Linked DNA regions of Homo sapiens: region 1 is reported to be linked to region 2. Evidence: microRNA targets listed by miRTarBase, many of them from high-throughput screens and not tested one by one. Region 2 holds a microRNA gene; the other region holds the end of a gene's coding sequence.

Evidence for each region. Region 2 holds the annotated microRNA hsa-miR-491-3p (CUUAUGCAAGAUUCCCUUCUAC, at 807-828, shown strand). A microRNA usually pairs through its seed, bases 2 to 8, with sites in the 3' UTR of a target mRNA and lowers its output. Matches are read on the target gene's strand: a 7mer-m8 pairs with bases 2 to 8, a 7mer-A1 pairs with bases 2 to 7 and ends in A, and an 8mer does both.
Region 1: the mRNA of ZBTB25 is a reported target of hsa-miR-491-3p. Seed matches in the 3' UTR shown: 7mer-m8 at 981-987.

The regions. Positions count from the first base shown.
Region 1 is chr14:64,483,898-64,487,441 of GRCh38, reverse strand. It overlaps ZBTB25 (zinc finger and BTB domain containing 25), which reads left to right. Exons shown (of 3, transcript NM_006977.5): 3 at 1-3,544. The coding sequence ends at 519. Among named protein-coding and RNA genes, the nearest start is that of ZBTB25, 18 kb to the left of the region's middle.
Region 2 is chr9:20,715,348-20,718,347 of GRCh38, forward strand. It overlaps MIR491 (microRNA 491), which reads left to right and starts at 758; the gene lies at 758-841. FOCAD (focadhesin) reads left to right here. Exons shown (of 44, transcript NM_001375567.1): 2 at 1-63; 3 at 2,447-2,521. The coding sequence starts at 7.

The DNA of each region.
Region 1 (3,544 bases), not on the chromosome of region 2:
TCCCTGCCATTCGGTGTCCCTGCTTCCATTCTGGAAAGTAATGACCTTGGTGAAGTGCATCCCCTTAATGAAAACAGCGAGGCCCTTGAATGCCGCAGGCTCAGCTCCTTCATTGTTAAGGAGAATGAACAGCAGCCAGACCACACCAACCGGGGTACCACAGAGCCTTTGCAGATCAGTCAAGTATCTTTGATCTCCAAAGACACAGAGCCAGTAGAATTAAACTGTAATTTTTCTTTTTCAAGGAAAAGAAAAATGAGCTGTACCATCTGTGGTCATAAATTCCCTCGAAAGAGCCAATTGTTGGAACACATGTATACACACAAAGGTAAATCTTACAGATATAACCGATGCCAAAGGTTTGGTAATGCATTGGCCCAGAGATTTCAGCCATACTGTGACAGCTGGTCTGATGTCTCCCTGAAAAGTTCTCGCTTGTCACAAGAACACTTAGACTTGCCTTGTGCCTTAGAGTCAGAGCTCACACAAGAAAATGTGGATACTATCCTAGTTGAGTAGCAGCTTCTCTTTCAGAATTTTTATACCAATTCTGAAAAAGAAAATTTGCGTGGCATTTTTAATTCATAAATTATTTTCCTCCTCAAGTTTCATTGACTTTTTTTCTTCACAGCTTATCCATGGTTTTAAGGTTGTATATATTAGATCTTCTCATAAGACATATTAATATGTGGCTATTAAAATGTAACATTCAATTACTACTGTGAACTTTTCACAAACGAAATAACAATTTAGAAATCAGAAATCAATGTAGAAATATGGAAACCTTAAATAGTTATTTATAGAATTCTAAGTTTTTCCAGTTATAGAATCAGTAAAATCAAATTGAATATAAAGTAAATGAAATCTGTTTTAAAGCATATTCTAAACTATCACTTCTGCCTACATTTCACATGAATTCACTCCTACCAGGATTATTTTTAAATATTTTCTTCCATATAGGAAATTAATAGTTACTTTAATGCATAACTGTATGTTATACATATGTTATAATGTATAAAAATTTATTTTAAGATATACCAAATCATGAGTAGTTTTATTTTTTAACTACTAGCTCCACAACATCTTACCTACATGGCTTCTCTTTACTTTTTAACATTGAGTATACCTCTTTTTTTTTTTGAGACAGAGTCTCTCTGTGTCGCCCAGGCTGGGGCGCAGTGGCGCGATCTCGGCTGACTGCAAGCTCCGCCTCCCGGGTTCACGCCATTCTCCTGCCTCAGCCTCCTGAGCAGCTGGGACTACAGGCGCCCGCCACCACGCCCAGCTAATTTTTTTGTATTTTTTTAGTAGAGACGGGGTTTCACCGTGTTAGCCAGGATGGTCTCGATCTCCTGACCTCGTCATCTGCCCGCCTTGGCCTCCCAAAGTGCTGGGATTACAGATGTGGTATATCTCATTTTTAATAAAAAAAACAGTTAAAGGGAGAAGAGTCAGAGAGACATTAAAAAATATTTAAGAAACAGTAAGATATACACACATAGATAAATAAGCATGCAGAGACAGAGACTGAGCTAGAACTGCATTGACTAAAAACCCCAGGGTTGTTAACTTGGTCTAGAGTGTTTTCTTAGACACCTTAAAAAGTAATTTGAGATTTTATGACCAGAGGTTTACATGAGTTGAAAGAGAATGATGATAAAATATAAATCATGTTTCTACCCTCAGCGTCAGGATTTTTGGGGCTTCCTGGGTTGATTTTAATTTTCTAAAAATCACTGAAAAAGTAATTTTTCAGTGGCACAGTTTTCACTTTTTTCCTGATCCATAAAACCAGCAAAGTGGATACATTCAGTGTTCTATAACTACATTTAAGATCCATGATGTTAGCTTTTCCTCTATAAATCAACTTAACTCTCTTTTATAATGGTGACACTTACAAAGCTAAAACCCCAGGAAAATTAAAGTTGATGAAAGAAATAACAGATTCCCCGGCTCTATATACCTGGGAAATAGCTGGTTAAGCTTCACCACAAAGGATAGATCTAAATTGTTTCTGAAATGTTTAAATTTCAAACCCCGCATAGTCAAGGATAATAAAACAGACTCATCTTTTTTTGCCCTCTTGTTAAATTCTAAGCTTCACGGGCATTTGAATACATCTAAAAAATTTGGTTTGTGAGCCTTAGAATTTAACCACTTACAAAACTCTTGAGCTCCCTCCACTTCTGAGGACGTTTCCTGACACATTCAACAGCATCAGCGTCCAATCAGGAGGGAGCTCAAAGAGTAATCCAGCTAATTCTAAGGACACAAAGGTTTTCTCTAGGTAAACAGTTTAGGTAAATTACAAAGTGGTAAGTTTTTCTTGAGGATTGAATGAAGAAAGCTACTGGATATTGTGTAAGGCAGTTGAGTTTCTGCCTTAAACAAGTGAGTAAAGGCTCCTATGGTTAAGACTGATGTGTGTTGAGAGCACATCTAACTTGATAAGATCAATTGTATTGGGAGTAATTAAAACAAATGTATGTTCTTTGGGGTCAGAACTTTGTCTAATCTTAAACTTTTTTCTACCAATTCACTTAAGCAACTATTGAAATTTGTACTGCCCTCAAAAATATCATCTCATTGGAAGAACACAAGTATTAACATTGATTTTTTGTATTTTAGGCTAGTTAAGATATATTTCCTAGCCTTCTTCAATTCAAATTCTATTGTTCTTATTAAGATAATTTTTCTCCTCTATATTCTTCCCTGTTTGCCTACTCATTATTATTATTTTTTTAATTTAATTTTTTTTTAAGATGGAGTTTCACCCTTGTTGCCCAGGCTGGAGTGCAATGGCGTGATCTCGGCTCACTGCAATCTCTGCTGCCTGGGTTCAAGCGATTCTCCTGCCTTAGCCTCCCAAGTAGCTTGGGATTACAGGCATGCACCACCATACCCAGCTAATTTTGTGTTTTTAGCAGAGACAGGGTTTCACCATCTTGGTCAGGCTGGTCTGGAACTCCTGACCTCAGGTCATGCACCAGCCTCGGCCTCCCATAGTGCTGGGATTACAGGTGTGAGCCACCGTGCCAGGCCCACTCATTATTCTTTGACACAGGAAATCCTTGTATATAGCTAAAGGGTGGAGGTAGAGTTGTACATGGTTGGTTGGATAAGACAGCAAGTGCCTCAGGGCAGAGTTTGGATAAATGGTAAGAGTTTGCTAGCAGCTGATTGGCCGTGATAGACAACACTCATTTAAAGCAGAAATATATCTGTTCGTTGAGAGTTAAGAAAATAGTGGTTAACTGTATTTCTATTCTTATAGTTCCTTTTAATATTAGAAATTCAAAGCAAATGCTCTTTCCTTGTTCCTTAAAACATTCATTCTGTTTAGGAAGTGGGAAAATATCAACTTCATTTTATAGAAAAAAAATCCCAAAAGCTGAATTCCAGAGATGCAGTGAATAGTGGTGTGGGACTGACCCCCAGTTTTTGTTATTGTTGTTTTCATTTATTCTGCAGGCTTTTTTTTTTTTTTTTTTTTTTTTTTTTGAGACAGTCGTGCTGTGTCGCCAGGCTGGAGTGCAGTGGTGCA
Region 2 (3,000 bases):
GCAAAAATGTCAGATGATATCAGGAAAAGGTTTGAATTTCCAAATTCTCTTATCCAATCACAGGTAATTTTGTTTGTTTATTTTTGCTCATGGTAACAAATAAACCTGTTCTGTGGATTTTTAACTGAACTTTATATATTTAATATTAAATATTTTATTCTACATGTAGAGATTTATATTTTGTGAAACAACTTTAAATATACATTTAATTTGAAAATATATATTTGACATGGAAAGCAAATATTTGAAATTGATCAATCTCAGCTTCTGTTTATATATCATACTTTTCTTCCTAGAGATAATAAAACCTTGATTAACTAGTAGGCCCCTGAATATGTTTGTTTGGTTTTTTTTGGCCTATGATTATTGGGAACAGAGGTAAACAGTTATATGTCTGAAGAGTATGAGGGATTAATATTTAAGAAGACATATCCTACCCCTTATATAGATTTTTATAATAATGATATTTAATAAGTAAAATATCCTGGATTAGAAAATTTGATATATCTACTAAGATAGAAGATTGTGATAACTTTAAAGAGCTTTTCAATAATTAAATAGTTAAAACAAAGATGGCTTTCTGGGTAGCCTTTAGCTAACTAGAAACATTCTGGTTAATCAAGGTATCATAATAGCTTATTGTCTTTTCTTGTGAGAGTAAAGCTAACAGACCAGCAGAAGCCATCTTGAAGACTTAACAACATACAGCACCTTGGATACTTTCAACAATTAACTTCGGAGATGTCTGCTGTGGGAATTGACTTAGCTGGGTAGTGGGGAACCCTTCCATGAGGAGTAGAACACTCCTTATGCAAGATTCCCTTCTACCTGGCTGGGTTGGAGTCATATCCTGCAGGTCCTTACCATGAAGAAGAAGATGAAGGCTTGGAGGATACTATTCACAGTTTTATTTTTCTGTGCCTGGAGTCTCTTTGTTAACATAGATAATCAAGAAATGCCCATACGTGTTACTGTTAAATTAGGTGAAAAAAATATATATATATATTTATATTGTTTAGTGTAGGATGGCTATTTGAATTCTGTTATAGAACACTTAAGTAGCAATGTAGGCTGATTTATCCTTGGGTTTTGTATTTTAAAAAATCAGTTTAGGCTAGTATCTCTGATTTGTTAGAAGATGAAGTGAAAAGTATATTAGATAAATTCAACCTGGTGGGGAATGGGGAATTAAGCTTCTCTTCTTTTATTTCTTTTTCTAGATATGAACTATAGCTTTTTCTTTGTCCCTATTGTGTTTCATATTAGTTTTATTAGGTTCTTGTGATTGTGTCCTGTCCTTTGCAAATATTTCTTATTGTTCTTCTGTAACCACTGCTCGATGTTAGCACCATATTTCTTTGATTCACACACGTTTTTTTTCAGATTTTAACATCTTTGAAATTGGATTGCCTCTAGTAATTGATGGCAGCAGTTGAGATACAGTTGGTATTGCCTGCACATTTGTGAACTTGGGCATGATTTTCTACACGAGTCTAAAAGAACTCTTGTGTGACTATAAAACCAAAATTCCGACTTATAAGAAGCACTGTATATCATAGACTAATTGGCAGCCTTTTTTCTTTCTTAGTGGCACACAGTATAATGGTGCAACTTGCAATTCCTGGTCAGTTCCATTCAATGAAATATGGTATGTTTTGTAAAACAGGAGCTCAACCTATCCATGGGTGCTCAGTTCTTATTACTATTCCTTTTACTAGGAGATAAGAGACAGTAAGTTGGACTAAACTTAATATTCATGTAAATGAGTGACTTATATCACAAAACTAGACCACAAGCACCACGGTCTTAAATCAGTTCCAATGTGTGAAATACAAAGAGAAAAATGAGGAAGGAGTGGGTGCTGTGTTTTTATTTGAGCTGTTCTGGAGACTTTGCAGGACTGACAGTTATTCACAGCTATACCGTAATTTGGTCCCAAGTGCAGGATGGACAGTTGTAGCAATAGTGAAGTAGTTTCCAACCCGTACACAGAATGGCAATGATTGTTGCTAGCCTATTGGCTCTAAGACATATTCTTCATATTCGTTAACAGTGTGATGAAGCATGGTGGATTTCGTTTCAGTGCAAAGATGATTTTAAAAACTATGGGCTTTCTCATTCATGTTTTAATGGAGTAAGCAATCTCAAGTTATCTTCTGATACTGACAGCAATTTGAACCAAAAATCTGGCAGTTTTCTTAACCTCTATGCACTATAGTTGCTTATTGGTAACCTGGGATAGATATGCCTACCTTGAGGGCTATTCTGAAGATTAGAAATTGTGCATGTGGAGTGCCTAATTCAATGCCTTCTACATAGCACACACTTAGTTAATGGGAATTTTACTTAATCCTAATTGACTGCCTGGCATACTCATATCAACTAGTATTGATATTTGGAAAGAACTTCTAAGGGACTGTGTTCATTAATTTTATTTCTTTTTAAGGCTGTGGGTCATCTTATTGCTGCAGTCCTAAAGGAAAATGGTTTTTCAGAAAAGATTCACCAATCTACAAATCAGGTCTGTGTTTAACTTTATGCTTTAATTCTCTTCAGATAAGATTGCTACTAGCTGGATCACATATGCACCTGTCTTGTTTCCCTGATAGTTCAGATCACAGTAGAAATGCTTTTGAACTGTGAGAACTTCATTGCCTTTTTTGTTTATTTGTTTGCCTTTTTAATATATAGCAATAAAAAAGTTTTAAATTTATTAAAACCCTCTAGGAATGAGACATGGAGGGAAGGGCTGGAGAGGAGTATTCTTATGACTATTAATGAAAAATAATATGGGTGGAATGAGAGAAAGCATGCTTTAGAGAAGATTGATAGAGTTACCTCTGAGGGAATTATTTTGGTAATGAAGAGAATGAACAGAGTGGCTCTGTTTGGATGTAGATTTCTCATGCTTCAGCTCAGCCCCAGCTGTGAGTTCTTAGTTGGAAAGGTCATACATTGACAGTCAAAGCTGAAAAATTCCATCTTACACAAATAGCAGGT